4 linked regions of the Homo sapiens genome follow. The protein of the gene in region 1 purifies or fractionates together with the protein of each later gene. This does not show direct contact. Each region holds a gene or a part of one and is shown on either strand. Other genes may lie near its edges. The genes, in order: MVP, UTP25, TEP1 and COP1.

The links.
Region 2: the proteins of MVP (region 1) and UTP25 fractionate together in Homo sapiens (co-fractionation; one large-scale study listed by BioGRID). This does not show direct contact.
Region 3: the proteins of MVP (region 1) and TEP1 purify together in Homo sapiens (affinity purification with western blotting; one study listed by BioGRID). This does not show direct contact.
Region 4: the proteins of MVP (region 1) and COP1 purify together in Homo sapiens (affinity purification with mass spectrometry; 3 studies listed by BioGRID and IntAct, with this or other methods). This does not show direct contact.

The regions. Positions count from the first base shown.
Region 1 is NC_000016.10:29,822,655-29,828,627, forward strand, and holds part of MVP (major vault protein), read left to right. Parts: intron 1-5,973. UniProt on the Homo sapiens protein: Required for normal vault structure. Vaults are multi-subunit structures that may act as scaffolds for proteins involved in signal transduction. Vaults may also play a role in nucleo-cytoplasmic transport.
Region 2 is NC_000001.11:209,829,825-209,835,797, reverse strand, and holds part of UTP25 (U3 small nucleolar RNA-associated protein 25 homolog), read right to left. Parts: intron 5,691-5,973; coding exon 5,651-5,690; intron 4,996-5,650; coding exon 4,755-4,995; intron 2,614-4,754; coding exon 2,440-2,613; intron 724-2,439; coding exon 635-723; intron 1-634. UniProt on the Homo sapiens protein: Component of the ribosomal small subunit processome for the biogenesis of ribosomes, functions in pre-ribosomal RNA (pre-rRNA) processing. Essential for embryonic development in part through the regulation of p53 pathway.
Region 3 is NC_000014.9:20,363,816-20,369,623, forward strand, and holds the end of TEP1 (telomerase protein component 1), read right to left. Parts: intron 5,762-5,808; coding exon 5,529-5,761; intron 5,088-5,528; coding exon 4,983-5,087; intron 4,745-4,982; coding exon 4,622-4,744; 3' UTR 1,852-4,621; downstream 1-1,851. UniProt on the Homo sapiens protein: Component of the telomerase ribonucleoprotein complex that is essential for the replication of chromosome termini. Also a component of the ribonucleoprotein vaults particle, a multi-subunit structure involved in nucleo-cytoplasmic transport.
Region 4 is NC_000001.11:176,199,312-176,205,284, forward strand, and holds part of COP1 (E3 ubiquitin-protein ligase COP1), read right to left. Parts: intron 1-5,973. UniProt on the Homo sapiens protein: E3 ubiquitin-protein ligase that mediates ubiquitination and subsequent proteasomal degradation of target proteins.

The sequences.
Region 1 (5,973 bases):
GGGTAAGGGAAGGGGCTGGAGGAGAATGAGTGCAATTCCCTGCCCTTCACAGCCTGCAATCGGAGCTGTGTTTTTGTTTTTGAGACAGAGTCTCGCTCTGTCCCCCAGGCCAGAGTACAATGGCGCAATCTCGACTCACTGCAACCTCTGCATCCCTGGTTCAAGCAATTCTCCTGCCTCAGCCTCCCGAGTAGCTGAGACTACAGTTGCCTGCCACCATGTACGGCTAATTTTTGTATTTTTAGTAGAGACGAAGTTTCACCATGTTGGCCAGGCTGGTCTCGAACTCCTGAGCTCAGGCAATCCGCCTGCCTTGGCCTCCCAAAGTGCTGGGATTACAGCCACTGCGCCCGGCCTGAAACTGATCTTTATCCTCCTCCCAGTTCCTACTGTGCACCAGAGACCCTCCAGTCTCTAATACCTTTGACTTGAAGAGCAGTCATTTTTTTTTCCTTTTCTTTTCTTTTCTTTTTTTTTTTTTTTTTTTTGAGATGGCCTCACTCTTGCCCAGGCTAGAGCGCACTCGTGTGCTCCATTTACGGCTCACTGCAGCCTTGACCTCCCAGGCACAGGCGATCCTCCCACCTCAGCCTCCAAAGTAGCAGGGACCACAGGTGTGCACCACCACACCTAGCTAATATTTTTTATGGTTTTTATAGAGACAGGGTCTCCCTATGTTGCCCAGGCTGGTCTTGAACTCCTGGCCTCAAGTGATCCTCCCATCTTGGTCTCCCAAAGTGCTGGGATTACAGGTGGGAGCCACCAAGCCTAGTCAACAGTCACTTTTATTCTCACTTCACTGGAGAGGAAGGCTCAGAGGCTAGTAAGTGGCCCAGGAGCATGCTGGCAGTGATAAAACCTGCTGGAGTGACATTTTCCCACTGGCTCTCAATCCTGGATATATATTAAGAGTCAGAGGCCAGGCGCGGTGGCTCACGCCTGTAATCCCAGCACTTTGGGAGGCCAAGGCAGGCGGATCACGAGGTTAGGAGATCAAGACCATCCTGGCTAACACAGTGAAACCCCATCTCTACTAAAAATACAAAAAAAATTAGCTAGGCGTGGTGGTGGGTGCCTGTAATCCCAGCTGAGGCAGGAGAATGGCATGAACCCGGGAGGCGGAGCTGCAGTGATCCGAGATCGTGCCACTGCACTCCAGCCTGGGTGACAGAGCGAGACTCGTCTCAGAAAAAAAAAAAAAAAATGAGGGAGAACTTTTTACAATAGCAACGGGTGAACCTCACCCAGACCAATTAAATAGAATCACCGGAGATGGGTGGCTTTAAAAAAAGGTCTCCAGAAGGCCTGGCGCGGCAGATCACACCTGTTATCCTAGCCCTTTGGGAGGCCGAGGTGGGTGGATCACTTCCAGCCTGACCAACATGGCGAAACCCTGTCCACTAAAAACAAAATTATCTGGGTGTGGTGGCGGACATCTGTAATCCCAGCTACTTGGGAGGCTGAAGCAGGAGAATTGCTTGAACTCGGGAGGCAGAGGTTGCAGTGAGCCGAGATGGCTACACTCCAGTCTGGGCAACAAGCACGAAACTCCATCTCAAAAAAAAAAAAAAAAAAAAAAAAAAAAAACAGATTTCCAGATGACCAGTGTGCAGCCCGAGCCGAGAGTCTGCTTTAGACCAGAGCTGCTCAGACTGTAATGTGCATGCAAGTCATTGAGGGTCGAGTTAAAATGCCAGTAGATTCAGTGGCTCTGGGGTGGGGCCCCAGGCTGTGTTGCTATCAAGCCTCCAGGTGGTACCACTCTACTCACTGCAGACCCCGTAGGCAGTGTGGTCACTTGGTCAATTGCCATTTAAGACTCACTAGGGGCCAGGTGTGGTGGTTCACGCCTGTAATCCTAGCACTTTGGGAGGCTGAGGCAGGCAGATTGCCTGAGCTCAGGAGTTTGAGACCACCCTGGGGTGAAACCCCATCTCTACTAAAATACAAAAAATTAGCCAGGCTTGGTGGCATGTGCCTGTAATTCCAGCTACTCGGGAGGCTGAGGCACGAGAATTGCTTGAACCTGGGAGGTAGGTGGACGTTGCAGTGAGCCGAGATTGTGCCACTTCACTCCAGCCTGGGCTACAGTCTCCAAAAAAAACAAAAAAGAGATTCAGTATATCAGCTACTCACAGTTGACCCTGAAGATCTCTGGGAAGTAGTGACTCATGACTCGTTTATTTATTAAGTTTTGCTGTAGCAGAAGTTTACTTTTGAGCCAAGAGTCTGATCCGGTCTCCCTCTTTTTTTTTTTTTTCTTTCTTTAAAGAGATGGGGCCTTGCTATGTTGCCCAAGCTGGTCTTGAACTCCTGGCCTCAATCCATCCTCCCACCTTCGGCCTCCCAAAGTGTTGGGATTACAGGTGTGAGCCACCTCTCTCAGGCAAGAGCCCCTCTTTTAACTAGACAATGAACCTGGTTTCTGCTTTGGACAGGCTATTTAGTTCCTGCTTATTTACCCTCATGGTGGGAGAGACCCTGGTGGGATTTGGGGTGAAAGCTGGCTGTGGTTCTTGCAGGAGCCTCATGACACCTGAGGGAGGTGTGATCAGGCAAGACTGGGCCTCTACACTGAGAGCCGACTAGGGCAGGTCTCAGAAGCAGAGACTGAAGGAAGTTGGGTGGATGAGTGGATCTGGGGAGCAGGGGCCAAGCCTGAGGGCTGGGCAGAGCCTTCCAAAGGTCAACACAATCCTTGCTATTGTCTTTTGAGGGCCCTGATCTATTTTAAGTAAAATGCTCTAACTGCGCATGTCATCTGGAAGGAAACCACAAAAAACTCAATCTGAGACTTGTCACCAATGTGCTGCCTGAGTCAAAGGGTTTCCCTGGCTCACCTCCATAGATGGCGAGGGTAGAAGGCAAGACCTGTCCTGGGTGGTCTAGGCAGAAGGCCCAGGTTTAGGGCATGGCAGGTGGGTGGTCAGGGAGGTGAGGTGGGGTCCTGGTGCTGATGCAGGGGCAGTTGCCGAGGGCTTGGCCTCAGAACAAGGCAGGAGTCCAGCCATGAGGATGACTCTTGCTGAGTCACTGAGCTGGGCGAGGCATTCAGACCCCCTGACTGGGCCCAGCTGGGGCGGCAGATGGTGGAGAGGCCTCAGCTGTGGGGGGTGTTGGGGAGATTATCCACTGATGAACCAAATGGAGGCTGTTCCCAGAGCCTGCTTCCAACCTTGCACGGCCTTCTAGAGTTCAAATCTTTCCTGGGGGGGCCTCAGAGCCCTGTCCATACCTCCGCTCACAGCCCCAGCCCTTCCTCTTCTCCCATCTGGTTTCCTGGCCAGGTTTCGGCCCTGCGGAGAACCCTCCAAGGGAGCAGTGGAAAAAGCTTCACTTGGCAGTAAAGCCCCTACTTGCTGTTCCATCCCTGCAGCTGGGGTGAAATAAGCCACTGACCAGTAAACAACTGAGGCTTAAACCAGCATGCCAGCTCAGGTGGGGAGCCCCCAGCACTGGTTATATTCCCTAGATTCCTCACTGGATAGGAAAGTTGGGCCTCAGGCACTCTTCCCTCCTCTGCAGTCAAACAGTGCAGATGAAGAGCCAGGCTCTGTTCCCAGTGCTTTATGTGCTAACTTGGTTGATAATGTTATCCATTCTCATTTTGTAGATGAGGAAACAGGCACAGGGTGGTCAAGGGACTTGTTCAAATCACTGATCCCATAAGGGTGAGAGCCAAGATCCAGGCATCCTGGCTGGGTGCGGTGGCTCCACCTGTAGTCCCAGTGCTTTGGGAAGCTAAGGCTGGATGACTACTTAAGACCAGGATTTTGAGACCAGCCTGGACAACAAAGACCTTATGCCTACAAAAAATTAAAAATTAGCTAGGTGTGGCAGTACGTATCTACAGTCCCAGCTACTCGGGAGGCTGAGATGGGAGGATCCCTTGAGCTGAGGAGTTCAAGGCTACAGTGAGCTGTGATCACTGCACTCCAGCCTGGGCAACAAAGTAAGACCTTATCTCAAAAAAAAAAAAAAAAAAAGGCCGGGCGTGGTGGCTCACGCCTGTAATCCTAGCACTTTGGGAGGCCGAGGCGGGTGGATCACAAGGTCAAGAGATCAAGACCATCCTGGTCAACATGGTGAAACCCCGTCTCTACTAAAAAAAAAATACAAAAAGTTAGCTGGGCATGGTGGCAGGCGCTTGTAGTCCCAGCTACTTGGGAGGCTGAGGCAGGAGAATCATTTGAACTGGGGAGGCGGAGGTTGCGGTGAGCCGAGATTGCGCCACTGCACTCCAGCCTGGCGACAGAGTGAGAGTCCATCTCAAAAAAAAAAAAAAAAAAATCCAGATCTAGGCATTCCCAGCCCTCTGGACTCTAGGAAGTCGTCTTTCCAGAACAGAGCCCCGTATTGTGGAGCAACTGGGGGGTGGAATCAAAGGTGAGCAGGACAGGGCTATAGGAAGAAAAGACAAGGTCCCCATAAGAGTGGCGAGAGGAACAGAGCCAGGACATCGGAAAGCAAGCCCCTGTGTTCCCAAACCGCAGAAGAGGGAGCTCTGATGTTAGACAAGCCACCCTCCTACAAGCGAAGGGAAAGTAACTTTGAGCAAAAATGAGCAACAGAAAATGAGATCAAGGTCAGATCTCATACAAAGTTGCAAGATGAAAGAATGAGCAGCAGAATAACCTCCCTGTGATGTGGAAAGTGTGCCAGGAAAACAGACCCAAACTGTAACCTCTTTCAGAATGAGGCAAGGCAGTGAGGAAACTATGTGAAAACACGAAAGCAGCCGATCAGAGTTGTAAGCCCGGGCAGTCTGGGTTGGAATGGGTGCCCCGAGCCACGGGACCATGATGCCTCTCTAGAAAGACAGGACCAGGCATTCCACCAGGGTTCTAGTCCCAACAGCACCACTAACTTGCTTGTGGCCCTAAAGGATTCATTGTCCCTCTCTGGGTCTCAACTATTTAGAGCTCTACTGTCCAGTATGGGATCAACCAGCCATATTTGGCAATTTAAATTAAAATTAGCTGGGTACGGTAGCGTACCCCTGTAATCTCAGCACTTTAGGAGGCTGAAGCGGGAGGATTGCTTGAGCCCAGGAGTTCGAGACCAGCCTAGGCAACATAGCAGGACCTTGTCTCTGCAAAAAAAATGAAAAAATTAGCTAGGCGTGGTGGCACATGCCTGTAATCCCAGCTACTCGGGAGGCTGAGGTGGGAGGATCACTTGAGCCTGGAGGTTGAGGCTGCAGTGAGTCATGATTGTGCCACTGCATTCCTGCCTGGGCAACAGAACAAGACCTTGTCTCAAAAAATAATTTAAAAATTTAGTTCCTCAGATGCATTAGCCACATTTTATTTTATTTTTTTCCAAGACAGAGTCTTGCTCTGTCGCCCAGGGCTGTAGTGCAATGGCGAGATCTTGGCTCACTGCAACCTCTGCCTCCCAGGTTCAGGCAATTCTCCTGCCTCAGCCTCCCAAATAGCTGGGATTACAGGCACGTGCCACCATGCCCAGCTAATTTTTGTATTTTTAGTAGAGACAGGGTTTCTGCATGTTGGCCAGGCTGGTCTCAAACTCCTGACCTTGTGATCTGCCGACCTCAGCCTCCCAAAGTGCTGAGATTACAGGTGTGAGCCAGCATGACCGGCCATTAGCCACATTTTAAGTGTTCAGGAGCCACATGTGGATGTGGCTAGTCCAAAGACAGCACAGATTTAGAATATTCTCATCATTGTAGAAAGCTCTATTGGACGCTGCTGAGTAAAAGGGTTTTTTTGGTTTGGTTTTGAGATTGGAGTCTCGCTCTGTTGCCCAGGCTGGAGTGCAATGGCACGATCTCTGCTCACTGCAACCTCTGCCTCCCAGGTTCGAGCAATCCTCCTGTCTCAGCCCCCCTAGTAGCTGGGATTATAGGTACCCGCCACCACAACTGGCTAATTTTTGTATTTTTAGTAGAGACGGGGTTTCGCCATGTTGGCCAGGCTGGTCTCGAACTCCTGACCTCAGGTGATCCACCTG
Region 2 (5,973 bases), on another chromosome or scaffold:
ACTGAGGAAAACTGGGCAAAGGGTACAAGATGTCTTTGTATGATTTCTTACAACTGCATGTATATCTATAATTATTCCCTCAATAAAAATTTCAATTAAAAAAAGGATGACCAACTCTCATGAATGGCATCAGTGGTAAGAACAAAGAAGCAAAAACTGCCCAATATCTGGATAATTTATTTGTGGACCTACCTCAGATATTTCAAACAAATGAACAACAGTAGTACCTACTGTTTTAATGAACACTGTTTTACTGAACACTATGTATTAGTAAACTATTCTATTTTGAGATAGGTATTATTATCCCCCTCTAGCAGACTAGAATAGTGAATAGCAAAAAAGCAGATGAACTTGCCTTGGGTCAAAATGTGATAGCTCCTTGAAGATGTTGGTCTCCAAATCCACTCTTACCCATCATTATATTATCTGGCACCCACACTCCAGCTTCCTGGTGCGTTTTCTAGCTACAACTGTGCCCCACTAGGCTCTTCTAGCCTTCCTTATGCCCTGCTTCCCTATCAAGCCATCTACTGCAGGTGTATATCATACATTCTGGGAGGCCACTAAAACCCAAGACCACTGTTTTATTTAGAGCTTTCTCTATTTGTGACCGGGATGACCAAGCAACACTTACTTTAAGCTCGTGGGTAGTTTTGGGATTTGTGGCAACAGCCTGAATTGCTTTTTCTTTCAGTTCTTTGTTCACATGTTGAAGAAATGGATCTAATTCAGAAATAAAAAATGTCAGCACACTATGCAACTACAGAGGGGTTTTGTGGTCTTCCCCTGTGAAAGACATGTTGATCTTCATTGTGTTAACTCATCCTTTTCTCCATTGACTTTCCCCACCCTCTGGCCAAGTCCAGAGCTTAAAAACTTCTGAAAGGTTCATTTTCCTAAAACATTTCTCTAATTATATTACTTCCCAGCTTGAAAACTTTTGAAGAAACTTCTCAGCCTGGAATTCAGAGCACTTTAGGATATACCTCCAACCTGCATCTCCGTTATCATTTCTGGACTATATGGCCCTCAAATTCTTCTGCCTCTGTGCTTTTCCTTCCTTCAACTAAAAATTCCAGCCTCTCCTTCACTTCATTTTTGCATATCCAAATGTTATCAATTTAATGTTACCCACTGAATCACAATAAATACTTCCCAGGCTTACTGTGTTAGGCACAACGTTGGCTCACCTTGTTCCCTAGAGTCATCACTTTCTCAAGTCTCCTACTCTGCCCAACCCACCCATTCCAACACATATACATATATACATGTCTTATCTAGCAGACTGCAAGGTCTCTAAGAACAGGTTCCATGTCTGATTGATCTTGCACTGGGACACACAGATATGACCAATACTCCACTGAATTGAACAAATGATCCACATGATAGCATCTGCACTCCAAGTAATCTTTAGTATTCTGAGCTAGCCACCCAACCTTCTCTCCCAGTCCCACTCATAAGAAACAGAACAAAGTTAAATGACCCATCCAAGCATCCAAACAGTAAAATTTCAAATGAAATGCATCTTGTATTAAATATCTAAGAGTGAACAACAGGACATAAGAATTCTAGATGCTAATATATCTGTATGAGCAAAACAACCACAGAAATTATGGGACAGTCAAGCTTCCTAATGTTTCCTCCAAAGTTTCTAAGTTTTAATGGTTCAGAATGGAGTTTGTACTAAAATCTACAAATTCTACCTGTCACTTCTTCTCCTGCAAAATAACCAACAGAACTAAATGAGTCAAATGAGGATTAAAATTTCTGTTTCATTAAAGGTAAAGCTGGGTTGAAGAATGGCAATGAGATCAATGAAGGCAATCAGGATACAGAACGAGACCAACCTGACTTGCCCACCCAGACACTGGCTGAGAAACTGGACTTGAGACAGCAGGAACCCATCAAAGCCCGCCATAGGCACGTCTTGACCACGTGACTGCCATTTGGTCACAGGAGTGGTCAAGAGTCTGTGGGAGGCAGGAGACACAGGGTAGGGCTTTTTGGCTTTTGAGGGTCTCCCTGGTAATAAAGACCACTCAGATTAGCCACCCCTGGGTCTTGCAAATCTGAAAAATTACTGCTCCAAAAAGGAACAGCAAGTGAGGGGTAGAGGAAGTATTTTTTCCTCTTTTTCTTTCTCTTTCCCTACTTGGGGAGAAAATCAGAAATCTTCCCCTGACTCCAATAATGAAAATGTGAGGCCTGGGAAGCTGGCCTTCCCTACCATCATTCTTGTTTGTTCTCCTAAATGTCCCGTCCAACCCCTAAACACTGAGAAACACAAAATACCTTTTAGAATTATTTTTCCCAGCTCTAGATCTAGCCACTAAACTGTTTTTATTGCTGTTTGTTCCAATAATAGATTCAATGTGTATTAGTACACAAATTCCATACTAAGCACCTGGTGAATTCAAATAACACACACTGTGCTATGACCTTGAGAGGCTTTCAAAGAAGAGTTGTCTCCACTTTCCTCTTCCAGAAAATTGGTTTCCAGGCTGAACAGTGACTCGTGTTTTGCATCTGTGAACTCTTCGGGGGATGTTTGTGATGTGCCCGGTGGCTCTTCCCCATCTTCTTTTCCCTCAGGGTCAGCAGATAAAGCTACATCTGCAGTTTTGAGAAACATTTTATAAAATTATTTACTCACAAATTATACTTCTGTTGACAAAATTTATTTCCTTAGGCTATACCAACAATAGCGTTCATTGATACTATTTATATTTAGGTAAATTCAGGTAGAAAACATAGATTTCAAAATTAAGCCTAATCATCAACACATGATGCATGATGGTGGGTTTTATGTCTCAATTTGGCTGGGACACAGTGCCCAGATATCTGGCCAAACATTATTTTGGATGTTTCTGCGAGGGTATTTTTGGATGAGCGTTTATTTATTTATTTATATATTGAGACAGGGTCTGGCTCTGTCACCCAGGCTGCAGTGCAGTGGTGTCATCTTGGCTCACTGCAACCTCCACCTCTTGGGCTCAAGTGATTTTTCCACCTCAGGCTCCCGAGTAGCTGAAACTACAGGCATGCACCACCATGCCTGGCTAATTTTTGTATTTTTCTGTAGAGATGGGGTTTCGCCATGTTGGCCAGGCTGGTCTCAAACTCCTAAGCTCAATCGATCTGCCTGCCTCAGCCTCCCAAAGTGTTGGGATTACAGGCGTGAGCCAGATCTCTTTCTCATATACACACATATCCTACCGGTTCTGTTTCTCTGGAGATTTCGAATTAATATACCCACTTCTAGTTCTAGGAACTTATTCTAAAATAGTAACCAGACATAGTACACTAAGATGTACATGAGAGGATGTTCAAAGCAGCACTGATTATAAGAAATAACTGGGGGAAAAAGGGTCTATCAATGGGGTACAATCATATTTTTACAATGGAATACTATGTAATTAAGAAGCTAATGTGAATCCACAGTCACAGATGTAGGAAGTTACGGAAATGTATAAGGCCATTATACAGATACACATAAATATATATACATACTCATATATAATCATAAAAATGTAGTCTGAAAGGTTATATACAATGCTAAAGGTGTTTATCTCTGGGTAGCAGGGATAGAGGGTAACTATATTACCCTCTTAAATGTTTACAGTAAATATATATTATTTTTATAATGATAAAAAAATTTTCATTTTTAAAAATCCAAAAAAGCAAAGAAAAATAGAAACAAACAAAACAAACTCCTAAGTGTAAGTCAATGAATTTTTATCTCAGTAAAACTGATCAGTTAAAATACCTGGAATGATATATAATACCAGAAGGTATAAAAAAAAAATAAGGCTATAAGAAAAATAGGCATTAAAATAATGAGTAAAAAGTCACCCAGCTATATTCAGACAATGGAATGCTATTCCAGCAACTAAAAAGTAGTAAGTGACTAATACATGCACAACACAAATAAATTAGAAAAACATGAGAAGCAAAAATAGCTAGACACAAAAGGAGTCATACTGTATGATTCAATTTATATGAATTTCTAGAACAGGCAAAACTAATCTACAGTGACAGAAGGCGGGTCAGTGGCTGCCTGATGCCAAGGGTGGGGAACTGACTGCAAAAGGATAAGAAAAATTTTTGGAGGTAATGGAAATGTTCTGTATCTTGATTTGGATGTATACCTTTGTCAAAACCTGTCAGACTGTATATTTAAATTGGATACGTTTTACTGTATGTAAATGATACCTCAATGAAGGTGATTTTGAAGTTAAAGAAAAAAGTCACCTTCAAGTCTGAGTGACACAGAGTCCCTGAAGCCTTCCCTAATTTACACTGGCAGTGTTCAACCACTCTGCCTCTCTTCAACACCTTACATCTAGCTGTTCCATGCAATCGCAAATCTACTGTTTGAAATTTTTTATATATATTTATGTCTATCTTCCATCAAACTTGGTCTCCCTAAGAGAAGAACAGTAACCTCTTCAATAAATTCAGACAGTCACAAAGACAGAACTGTGTTCTCCTTCCTCTGTATTAGGAGGTCTTTCACTAGTACTGATGAAGTCCCTGAAATTACAAGCAAAAATGTTATTTCTGCCTAGCTGTGCTAAGAAGGTTCTGTGTTTCCATCAGATTCTCAAAGATACAATCAAACCCAACAAGGGTAAATCCCTATTTTGGATTCATGTCCTTTCATCCAACTCACACAGTATATAAGGTACCATGCTCATGAGATGAACTGTCTATAGTTCTGGCAAAGATGATGAGCCTATAGTAAAGACACTTACTCTCTGGACTTTCAGTAGACTCTGCAGCCATCTCTTCTTCCACACTGACATCGCTACCACCATCTTCATCGTTCATTTCTGCATCATCTACAATACTGTCTTCTTCCTCTTCCTCCTCCTCATCTTCCTCTTCTTCCTCAGAAACATTCTTTAATGTAGCAAGTAGTCTGTGGTAGCCAGAAACTTGTTGTGGTTCACTCTCTGAGTCGCTTTCAGAATCTGAAGAATCTGAACTCTCTGACTAAAAGGAAAAGGAGAATTTTAAGAACAAAAACTATATTGTTCTTATTGTTACCCTAAAACTATCATCAAGCCAACATCTATTCAACGAAGCCCAAATTCAAATTTACTTAAAATTGCTAATCTAGCTATGATTCTAGAAGCTCTTCATATGCTCCAAACTGCTACTGCCCCACTTTTAAAACATAAAACTTCAGGTTATGAGATTTAATTTATGTCCCAGGCATTAGGCCACAGGTTTAATAGAACAACAGGATAATTACAAAACAACAAAAGAAAACAGGTTTCTTTTTTTTTTTTTTTAGTTTGTTGTAATATGATAGGCCCTTTGTTCATTTTGCACTGTATTTGTGACTCCTTTATGCTAACCAAAAAAGATATTCCCTCTTAGGATTCACTAAGAGCCCTCTGATAAGCCTCTGTAACAGGGCCTAATAGGCTAGTCTCCTGGGACAATTTCAAACTGTGGCTTCTGTATTAGATATCACAATGGCATTTTTATAGACATCTGCATTTAAAATTAAGTGATACTGCCAAAATAATAGCTTGCATCTGAAATCAAAAGGAATAGAAATGTAATCAAGCTTTATTATTAGATATAATCTTAGTGGGAACAACCCAAAACCAACTATTAAAAAGAAGGTAGAAAGCATTACCAGTTGACAAATCTGTGGCTTTGCTTCCTTTCTGGAAACCCTAAAAAGAAACAGGCAATGTTACATTCTAACTACTAGTATGTAGAAATTAGGAAAAGGTCAAATGAGATGTTAAATGAAAAAGGCAGAATATAACATTATAAATACATTTTAGATATAGTCATGCAAAAATTACACATGCACTTGGGCAGGGCTGGCAAGAATATGGTTAATAACTGACAAATGAAAAGTTTAAGGAGGTCACATGACAAACCCTAGAGTCACACAAGGCTCTCATCCAAAAGAAGGATACAACTTGGCTAAATAAAAGATTTCGGGGTTCA
Region 3 (5,808 bases), on another chromosome or scaffold:
TAGCATGGTTATGTAAGATGTTAACATTAGAAGAAGCTGGGTGAAGGGTATCGAGGAACACTTTGTACTATCTTTGCAACTCTTCTGTAAATCTTACATTTTTTTTTATTTTTTAGAGACGGAATTTTGCTCTTGTTGCTGAGGCTGGAGTGCAATGGTGTGATCTCAGCTCACTGCAACCTCCGCCTCCCGAGTTCAAGCGATTCTACTGCCTCAGCCCCCAGAGTAGCTGGGATTACAGGTGCATGCCACCACGCCCAGCTAATTTTTATATTTTTAATAGAGACAGGGTTTCACCATGCTGGCCAGACTGGTCTTGAACCCCTGACCTCAGGTGATCTGCTCTCCTCAGCCTCCCAAAGTGCTGGGATTACAGGCTTGAGCCACTGCGCCCAGCCTAAATCTTACATTATTAAAAAAGAAGGATTAAGAGCCATTCTAGTGGGAAAGCACCAACACAGATATGTTCTTTGGGGATGTCATCTGTGTATTGGCTCCTGGTTCTTCTTTCAGACACATCGTAGGATACTTCCTCCCCATCCCTTGACATTAGGTATGGCCACGTGACTTGCTTTGCTTGTATTTATTAAATATGAGTGGAAGTGATGTGTTTTATTTCCAAGTGGAAGATTGAAGAGTTACTCGCCACGTGAAGCACAGAGCTCAAAATATGCGCAAAGTAGAGCAGGGCCTTCTCGCTGACCCTTAACGGGCCATGTGGCATGATTTAGAAATAAATCTTTGCTATTTTAAGTTGTTGAGATTTTGGGGTTGTTATGATAGCATAACTTTAATATTTTAACTGATAAAGAAACATACCCATCGTTCTGGATGAGAAGATTAGGTATTTGGAGGGTGGGAGGAGGGAGAAGATCAAGAAAAACAACTAATGGGTACTAGGCTTAATACCCGGGTGATGAAATAAACTGTACAACAAACCTCCATGACACAAGTTTACCTATGTAACAGACCTGCACTTGTACCCCTGAACTTAGAAAGAATACGAGTTTCACATTTTTTTGAAAACTAAAAAATTCGGTCCAGATTTTCTGATTGATTAAATATATACTAATAAATAAGACATTTATGAGAAAGAATAATGAGGTGATACTCGTACTGCTAGGTAACAAAAAGAACAGTCAAGTTAGCACTTATTGAATACTTACCACAAAAGTGTCACTGTTCTGTGTTTTACACCTTAACTCATTTAGTCCTTAAAACACTCCCATGAAGTAAGCACCATTATTATGGCTGTTGTACAAATGGGGGAAAGGAGGCATGAAGATTTGAACTCAGGCAGTCTTATTCCAAGTCCATGCTTTTTGCTGCTGTTACCCAGTCTCTCTAGAGTAGTGCTTCTCAAACCTTCTGAGATGAAGGACTAATTGTTCCTTTGTCTTTCTTTCTTCCTTCCTGCCTCCCTCCCGCCCTCCCTCTCTCTTTCTTGCTTTCTTTTTTTTCTTTTTTTTTTTTTTTTGACCAAGTTTCATTCTTGTTGCCCAGCCTGGAGTGCAATGATGCGATCTCGGCTCACTGCAACCTCTGCCCCCTGAGTTCAAGCGATTCTCCTGCCTCAGCCCCCCAAGTAGCTGGGATTACAGGTGCCTGCCACCATGCCCAGCTAATTTTTTGTATTTTTAGTAGAGACGGGGTTTCACCATATTGGCCAGGCTCGCCTCGAACTCCAGACCCCAGGTGATCCACCCGCCTTGGCCTTTCAAAGTGCTGGGATTATAGGCGTGAGCCACCGTGCCTGGCCTGTTTTAATTTCTTATCTGTCACGGAATAATACTTTTATAAAATATAATCAAAATGGATTATTAAGAAAATGAAATTAAAAAGCACACAAAATACAAGCCTCCATTTTTATTATTAAATTTGTCAGATATTACTTTTTAAATTCCTACACAGTTTCTAAATGGTTACTCTCAACTTCCGTACTTATCTCATTATAAAACATTAACAATTTGTGAACTGGCACTAGTCCATGAACCAAACTTTGAGTACCTCTGCTCTAGATTTCAAAAACAGATGTGGATATATGTGTAAAAATTTGGTATATAAAAAAGATGCTTTTCTAGATGGGTAGAAGAAAAGATTGTTCAAATGTCCTATGGTCTCACAATCCAGTGGTTATAACTGTAAAACTCATCCAGCCTTTGGGAGACACTGAAACTCCATTTAAAGATAAGAACTTGAAGGATGTTTAATGTAAACCTAAATTGATTTTCCCTTCAACTCCTTTTGGGTACATAATTACTTTTACCTAGAAGCTGTTCTTGACTTTACTCATAACAATTATACCATGACCTCACTGTCCTTCTCCAAGATGAAACAAAAAACCCTTCAAGTGGGCCTGGCCAACAAGACTGAATCTATTGAGCCTATTGGTCAAGTTAGCCTTTGCTTAACTTTCCCCAACCCCTTCACTCCAGCCTTAGCTGGGATGCTTTTATATAATTTTCAGAGCATGGAAGAGAGACAAATAGAGCTTCCTCCTGCAATTGGCCCAAGATTTTAGGGGAGCAAAAGGCAAAAGATTGAAATCAATGACTAGGATGATGCCATGCCATAGTTCGCTGCAGGATTTCTGGCAAGGATTATGGATCATAAATTTCAAAATACCATAACTAGGACTTCTAGTCACAAGGTAGATGTGGAAATGATGGTCCAGAAGGTATATTTCGAGGCTTGGCATGAGGCACATAAGAGAAGACAGAAGCATGGCCTATCAGCGGATGTCATCATCCTCTGGTCAGGATGGAAACCAGGGCATTGGATAGAAATAAAGTCCCTCAGGTTATTTCTCCATGTAAAACCTGGAATCAGGGTACAGTGAGAGTAAAACTCAGTGCCCTTTAACTCCCCAAGTCTTCAAAACTCATTTCTAGACCAGGGTGTAGTGGTATTTCTCCAAGAGAAACCTACCAAACCAGGACAAAATCCCTGTAATAGCCTTCACTTATCTCCTACAAGTCCTTGAATTCTTGGCCACAGAAGACATTTCCTTCTTCTTTAACCCTCAGAAAGAAAGGGCCTGAGGAAACTAAAGTCAGTGGTTTCAATCTTTTGCCTTTTGCTCTCCTAAAAGCATGGGCCAAGGGCAGGAGGAAGCTCTAGTTGTCTGTCTCCCATGCTCTGAAAATTCTACAAAACACCCCAGCTAAGGCTGGAGTAACAGAGGAGGAAAGTTAAGCAAAGGCTAACCTGCTCAATAGATTCTTCCATATGATTGAATTTTAGAAATATAATAAAGTTCTTTTATGGGCCGGGCACAATGGCTCACGCCTGTAATCCCAGAACTTTAAGAGGCTGAGGTGTGCAGATAACCTGAGGTCAGGAGTTTGAGACCCACCTGGCCAACATGGTGAAACTTCGTCTCTACTGAAATACAAAAATTAGCTGGGCGTGGTGGTGGGCACCTGTAATCCCAGCTACTCGGGAGGCTAAGGCAGGAGAATCGCTTGAACCCAGGAAGCAGAGGTTGCACTGAGCTGAGATTGCACCATTGCACTCCAGCCTAGGTGACAGAGCCAGACTCTATCTCAAAAACAAAAAAAAAAAAAAAAGGTTTTTTACTTAAGAAAATCAGAGTTCATGGCTATGATTGTGCCACCTCTCAATTAGTTTTAATCTTTGTGAATTTCAATTTGAGAGAGAGTAAGACACTTTCGTGATCTCTTCTGAGAATGCCAATTACCATATTGACTAAAGTTGAAAGTCGTGTCAGAAGTTGGGAAAACCAGAAGGTTTGTTCCGCTTTCAATGGCTTGGCTCCTCACCTCTCATCTGGGTAGTTCTTTTTTTTTTTTTTTAGACAGAGTCTCGCTCTGTTGCCCAGGCTGGAGTGCAGTGGTGTCTCGGCTCACTGCAAGCTCCGCCTCCTGGGTTCACGCCATTCTCCTGCCTCAGCCTCCCAAGTAGCTGGGACTACAGGTGCCCGCCGCCACACCTGGCTAACTTTTTGTATTTTTTAGTAGAGACAGGGTTTCACTATGTTAGCCAGGATGGTCTTGATCTCCTGACCTCGTGATCTGCCCACCTCGGCCTCCCAAAGTGCTGGGATTACAAGCGTGAGCCACCATGCCCGGCCTCCTCTGGGTAGTTCTGAGAAAAGGGCTGTCTCTGTGACAGAAACATAGCTCTTTCTAAATGCCCTGATGCATGACTGACTTATTCTCCCTCCCTCATTCTTTCCCGATGAACTGAAAGGTCTTCCATGCTCTGTTCAAATTGAATGTTGGCCAACATCACTCTCATTCCTCCTCCTGGCAAGAATGGCATCCTAGGGTCCTAGGGCCCGCGAGTGATGCAAGAATTCTAAAACCTAGTTTCAAAAGAGTACCTACTAAAGATTTCATTCACTTTCTTGTGGTTCTAGTAAGGATTAATGTTGAATAAGAAGAGACACACATTAGAATGTACATATACATACACATAGAATATCCTCCTGTTCTAAATCCACATGAGAACACAGGCAGGCCTACACTTGAGATTTTTTGACACTTCATTTTTATAATTATCAAGAAATTATTAATTTTATAATTATTAAAAGCTACCAGTGTCTTCAGGCTTTGCATCTCTAGCACAAGGGGTATCATTATTCCCGAGTGGCACATCTTCATTCCCAATTCAGAAAGTACACATTGCCCTGCACGTCTCCCACGGCAAGCTGCAGGGTGGAGTTAGCGCCCAGCCAAGGTTCCAGGCAGCTCACTGACCCTTCGCATCGGAACAGGCCCAGCTACGATGGGAACAAAAATAGGGGAGGTCAGGGCTACAAGCCTCCTTACTAACTTATTTTTTCTCACATTAATGCCTTTTATTTAGAAACAGGTTAGTCATACATTGCAAGTGATTGAAGAAAACAGAATTTTGATCTTTTGCCCTTTCTTACTCTAAGTTTGCTGTCTTGTGACATCCCTTTGGGATAGGTGTGCAGGCGCACGCACACACACACACACACACACACACACACTTACCAGCTGCATACTGGGTCTCTCCCATAGCTTAACATCTCTGTCCTTCGAAGCTGTCACCAGCAACTCAGGTAGCACATGGAGGGCTGTGACAGAGCCCGAGTGAATCTCAAAGAGGAAAGGGGAGAGCAGAATGGTGAGTTCTCAGGGGCCCCTCCTCAGAGAAGCATCACAATGTGCTGTGTCAGACCTACAGCCCTCCTCCCTTAGTATTTCTTTTTTTTTTTTTTGAGACAAGAGTCTCGCTCTGTCGCCCAGGCTGGAGTGCAGTGGCGCAATCTCGGCTCACCGCAAGCTCTGCCTCCCGGGTTCACACCATTCTCCTGCCTCAGACTCCCGAGTAGCTGGGACTACAGGCACCCGCCACCACGCCCAGCTAATTTTTTGTATTTTTTAGTAGAGATGGGGTTTCACCGTGTTAGCCAGGATGGTCTTGATCTCCTGACCTCATTATCTGCCCGCCTAGGCCTCCCAAAGTGCTGGGATTATAGGTGTGAGCCACTGCTCCCAGCCCTCCCCTAGTATTTCTGACCCTTCCTTCAAACTCACCTTTCTACGCTGCCGTGTCTTTAGATGTGGTGTTGGCTCACTATCCATGCTGGCATCACTATCCATGCTGGCATCAGATTCCCTGCAGGTAGATGGGTCTGTCCCTGGAGTTTGGGTTTCTGGAGTGTTTGCTTTTTTCTGCCACATGTTACCTGTGGTCCATTCTCCTTCTGGGCTGCATTTGGCCAGGTTCCATAGGATCCCATCAGAGCTGGCACACAAAAATGAGGACTCTGCCATTTTAAGGACAGAATTAGAGCCAAGTCTCAGGGATCTGCCA
Region 4 (5,973 bases), on another chromosome or scaffold:
CATCTCAAAAAAAGATAAAAAAGAAATGCAAAATGGTAGAGGCAGTTTTTAAAAAGTTTTGCAGTTTATTTTAAAACTAAACATACACTTGGCAGAGAACTCAGCAATTCACTACTAGATATTTTTACCCTAAAAATGTGAAGACGTGTCTGCACAAAAACCTGAATGCTTACAGAATTTTCTAAATAATAGCCAAAAACTAGAAACAAGTCAAAAATCTTTTAACTAGCAAATATATAAGCAGTTCATGTTATATCCATATAATGGGATAATACTAAGCAATTAAAAGAAAAAAAACAGTACACTCAACATCATCAGTGTATTTCAAAACATTATACCAAACGAAAGAAACCAGACACAAAAGACTACCGACTAAAGGACTCCATTAATATGAAATTCCAGAAAAGGCAAAATGACAGCAATGCAAAGCAGATCACTGGTTGCCAGGTGTTAGGTGTGAAGGTAGACACAGAGTATGAAGTGCTGGCAAAAGTGAACTTTCTGGAAATGTATCATATCTTCATTAGGGTGGTGACTGCACAGGTGTATTCATGTGTCAAAACTCATTCAACTACACACTTATGACCAGTGACTTATTTTATGCAAATTATAACTTAGTAAAGCTAATTTTAAACAAAATCAGCCTCTAAATAAAGGCAAGGAAATGGGTGGTTAACTTGGGTAACCATTTGTAATAGTGGTTAAGAACCTGACCTCTGAGCCAAATTGTCTGAATATAAATACTGGTACCACCATTATTAACCGTGTAACTGAGACAAGTTATATAACCTCTATGGGCCACATTTCCTCATCTACAAAATGGGAACTATAAGAGTATCTACAGCAAACAGTTGTTGTGAAGATTAAACAAGTAACGTAAAACCTTTAAAATAGTGCCTGGCAAATAGCAATTTATATTTGAGCACTTATTATTATGAGTATTTGTCCCAAACTAATTGTCAGTACAACACATTCCATCTTCACTTGAGTGGACTTGGCATTTATGAACGTTTGAGTTTCAAATATCTAAAAGAACCCCCAAAACAGTCGTAATTTTTACAAAGCCTACTTTGTCTCATTATCTCTATTTAGAGCCAAATGCCCATCTGTGAATTAATACTAAAGACAGAGGATTCCAATGCACTAGACACTTGAGCATGGATCATGTGTTCCAATTCTGAATTTGGGGAAAAAATGTACCACCCCAAACCACACAGATTAGGAAAGAAGGATGGATTCCCAATGGTTACACCAGAAATACAATAAACAGAAATCAGATCACCTACTGCATTCTATGTTTCACTTTATATAGAAACAGAGGCAAAATCAGTTCATAAAACTTAATTGTGAAAAATGAAAGGACAACTAACATATTTTAAGTATAAAGAAAAACATGTTACTCTCAGTGAATATATTGTTTGAGAAAGTACCAACCTATCTGAATAGAACTTGGCTCATACACACATAAAGAAAGAGGACAAAGAACAAGTAAGGTGGAGGGCAAAGACAAGTCTGCACAAAAACCTGAATGCTTACAGAATTTTGTCCTACATACAACATCACATATAAAAACAGATCAAGAACTTTAAAAACAATTTAGCAGAGTTTCACTACATTGCCCAGGATGGACTCAAACTCCTGGAGCTGAGACTACAAGCATGCACCATCATGCCCAACTTAAAAAACATTTTATTTGGTATACAGGTTGAATATCCCTAATCTGAAAATCTGAAATCCAAAATCATGCAAAATCAAAAATTTTTTCAGTGCCAACATGACTATCAGAGGAAATGCTCACTGGAGCATTTTGGATTTCAGATTTTTCAGATTAAGGATACTAACCTGGTAAATATAATTTAAATATTCTAAAATTCGAAAACAAAAACCAAAAAAACCCCTAAAATCCAAAACACTTCTGGTCTCAAGCACTTCAGATAGAGGATACTCACCCTGTAATACAAATTTTAACAGGAAAAAGACGATGGGCTAATTCCACCGTCAAAAAAGCCTTTCCTCCCAAGCTGTGGAAGTTTTCTGAGGAAAAGGGTAGCAGGTTAAAATAATTATATAAAATATGAAAAAATCACCATTAAGAAAAAACATACACATACAAGAAGGAAAAGTAAGCAACAAGGTTTAAGGCTACAGTTACTTTAATCAGTAACAGTTCTTAGATGGAACATATCCACCTATGTAATGTTGGCTCATTATCAGAAAAGGTATAAAGATTTGTAAAAGGAAAAGATAACTGCTTATCAACACATTCTTTAGTAATGAACTACTATTGCACAAGTACCTTCTTCTCAATTTATAGACTACAATTCCAAGTTAATAGTCTTCCTATCCTGTTTCATGATCATCTATTTTCTCTACCATTTAATTCACCCATAGAAGTCTCCTGCTACCATTGATGCTGATGCCCCACCATCTGATAGTCCACAGGTCTGACAGTACCAATAGGTCTGATAAAATATGACATCATCTCCTGCAGAGTATGTTTCATCATTGACATCCAAATGGCACATGTATTATAAAGCAAAAGAAGCATCAAGTTTGACTTTTGCAGATTCAAATAAGTTCTTGACAGATATTACTATAATAATATAATAAATGCTGGTTTATTCCAGTAACTGAACATGCTTTTAACAGCTCTTTAAATTATATTTAGTCCTATATTTATAAGCTCACAATGGTCTAAAAAGAAAAGTCACTTAAACTTTCCACTTTCCTATCAGAGGAAATTCAGTCCTATAATTCAGTGACTTTAAAAAAAATTTTACCAGTGTACCCAGTGAGAAATACATTCCACATACATTGCTGCACAAACTGTTACTGTCTTTATTACGACAGATTCTATGATACGTTCTAGTTCACTTTTTTTTTTTTTTTTTTTTTGGAGACAGGGTCTCACTTTGTCGTCCAGGCTGGAGTGCAGTGGTGTGATCATAGCTCCCTGCAGCCTCGACCTCACAGGCTCAAGTGATCCTCCCATCTCAGCTTCTTGAGTAGCTGGGACTACAGGCACAAGCCACCACACAGGCTAATTTTTGTATTTTTTGTAGAGATGGGGTTTCGTCATGTTGCCCAGGATGGTCTCAAACTCCTGGGTTCAAGTAATCCTCCTGCCCTGGCCTACCAAAGGGCTGGGATTACAGGCGTGAACCAAGGTGCCCACCCTCACTTTTTAATAGTCTGAAAAACAGAGCCACGTGTTTTTCAGACTATTAAAAATATCCTGGGATTACAGGTGGTGGCACCCGTCTCTAATCCCCGCTGCTTGAGAGGCTAAGACATGAAGATTGCTTGAGCCCAGGAGTTTGAGACTAGCCTGGGCAACATAGGGAGAGCCCTGTCTCAAAAAAAGGAAAAAAAAAATTGGAAACCAGTTATATTAACAAGAATGGTCAACAGGCTTCATTTTTAGTGCTAAAATGTAATTAATAGGTAATGGCTATATATTGTACTATGCATAGTCCATTAGAGTATTTAACATCTGCCATGGCACTAAGAAAAAGGAATGGTACTAACATCTGTCATGACACTAAGAGAGGCAATGATACCAGGTTATGATATTATAATTACACAGTTAAAAGCCATTCTTCGAATTAAATCATGAGCTCCTTAAGAAGAGAGAATCTTAGTTTAACACAAAATAGGCAGTCACATATTTACTGAATGGTAGATCTATTTAATGTAGATCCTAACTATTTTCTATCAAGCAGATGATTAAAAGTCAACCTTCTCGGCCGGGCGCGGTGGCTCACGCCTGTAATCCCAGCACTTTGGGAGGCAGAGGCGGGCGGATCATGAGGTCAGGAGATCGAGACCATCCTGGCTAACACAGTGAAACCCCGCCTCTACTAAAAATACAAAAAATTAGCCGGGCGGGGTGGCCGGCGCCTGTAGTCCCAGCTACTCGGGAGGCTGAGGCAGGAGAATGGCGTGAACCCGGGAGGCGGAGCTTGCAGTGAGCCGAGATCGCACCACTGCACTCCAGCCTGGGCAGCAGAGCGAGACTCCGTCTCAAAAAAAAAGAAAAAAAGTCAACCTTCTCATAAAGAGCTTACTATCTACATGCAAACGTATACTTCTGCTGCAAGAATGGCTGGGACTTGCAGAGGTAGAAAACTTCATTTGAGATAGCTGGAAAAGCTAATACAAAGGCAGTAGTTATAGAATTGTTTAAAAAAGGAGTCCGTATAAAAAACAGAAGTCATCTTTCAAATACAGACCAGACTCACAGTCTAGTTAAATGAACCGTAAGAAAATTTTGCAAAAAACAAAATAACAAAGACTTCCTCTGAATGTTGAAAATGTATCCAATGTCAAGCTAAATACTACTGTCCTGTATTAGATTCTCCATCAATAAAACACTGTTAAAATTATTCAACTTGATAATACCTTCAATCTTTTGTGTAAAATAAAATATAAAAATGCAACCTAAACCCCTAAAATGTTTATGAATTCTTCAATTAAATATAAACTTACTTTCAAATATAAGTCAGGAGAGGCCAATGTTTATTACTGAAATTAGGTACGTGACTATTTAAATCAACAGTTCTCAAGGAGGGGAGAAGGACAGGTCCCTATCACCAGGGGAGCATATGCAAATTACACCACCCACCCCAGCCTCCAATTCAGGTACGTCTTCTTGGGATGTGGGCAGGTAAGAAAAGGGAGTGGTGAGGGATAAAACATTTATCTCATATGATTATGAAACAGCTGCTTCTCCTCCAATCTGTGCCGTTTAAGAACCACTGGGCTAAATACATGTACTCGAACTTACAGATCTGAAACTCTCTAATTGCACACAAAGAAAACACAAAGTTGAGAACTGGGAAATCTGAGTTCTCATTTTGTCCTTACCTGTCCAACGACAAACAAAATTACTTCTCTGTGCCTCAATGAGAAAATAATTAGTATTGTATTAAAAATAAGTTATATATAACATCACAGAATTGTTCTAAGGATAAAATAAAACGTGAAGCATAAGCATATCTTTAAAATGTCCCATAAATGAATAAGAAATTATCATTATTTGAACTTGGGCTTCGTTTAAATATAAAAGCATAGAATAATTTGAATTGGTTCACAGTTTGACCTTGGGGCATACAAGACAAGACCCACAGCCAAACGGGGGGAAAAAAAAAGAAAAAAAGGATTCCTTGGGCCTTGCCTAATCCATATCATCCTACCCCAAGAGTCTGGACAAAATCAAACCTGGCTTGAGTTTTAAATCAGATTCTCATTAATTAATTCTTCTGAATATTAAACCTCACCAGAAAAAGAAATAATTAACTAATGAGATTCTTAGAAAGTGAAATACTCAGGACCACGGTGGCTCACACCTGTAATCCCTCCCAGCACCTTGGGAGGCCGAGGCGAGCAGATCACCTGAGGTCAGGAGTTCAAGACCTGCCTGGCCAACATGGTGAAACCCCGTCTCCATTAAAAATACAAAAAATTAGGCAGGTGTGGTGGCAGGTGCCTGTAATCCCAGCTACTACTCGGGAGGCTGAGGCTGGAGAATTGCTTGAACCCGGGAGGCGGGGGTGGCAGTGAGCCAAGACGGTGCCACTGCACTCCAGCCTGAGTGACAGAGCAAGACTCCGTCTCAAATACAAATTTTTACTCTTTTAAAAAAAGAGTTCCCAATTCCCTATAGCATAGCCTGCAGTGCACTGAACTTCATATGGTGCCTGGCCGACAGTGAATGTCATACAAGTATCTCTTGAATGACAATGATCGATTCCTTATTCCTCACATCTTTTACTTTATTTTAGTGTACTTACACGGAGGCTAACATGTTTGTGTTCGTTAAGTATACTAAAAATTAAAATGCAAACAGTGGCTAAAAAGACAACTAAATTATGCACACCCCACTTTGTTTTATTAGCTTATTAGCTACTCGCACTATCGACTGTGTAGAAGTGCAAACACTTCTCAGCCCCAACCATAAACTGCTTATTTATA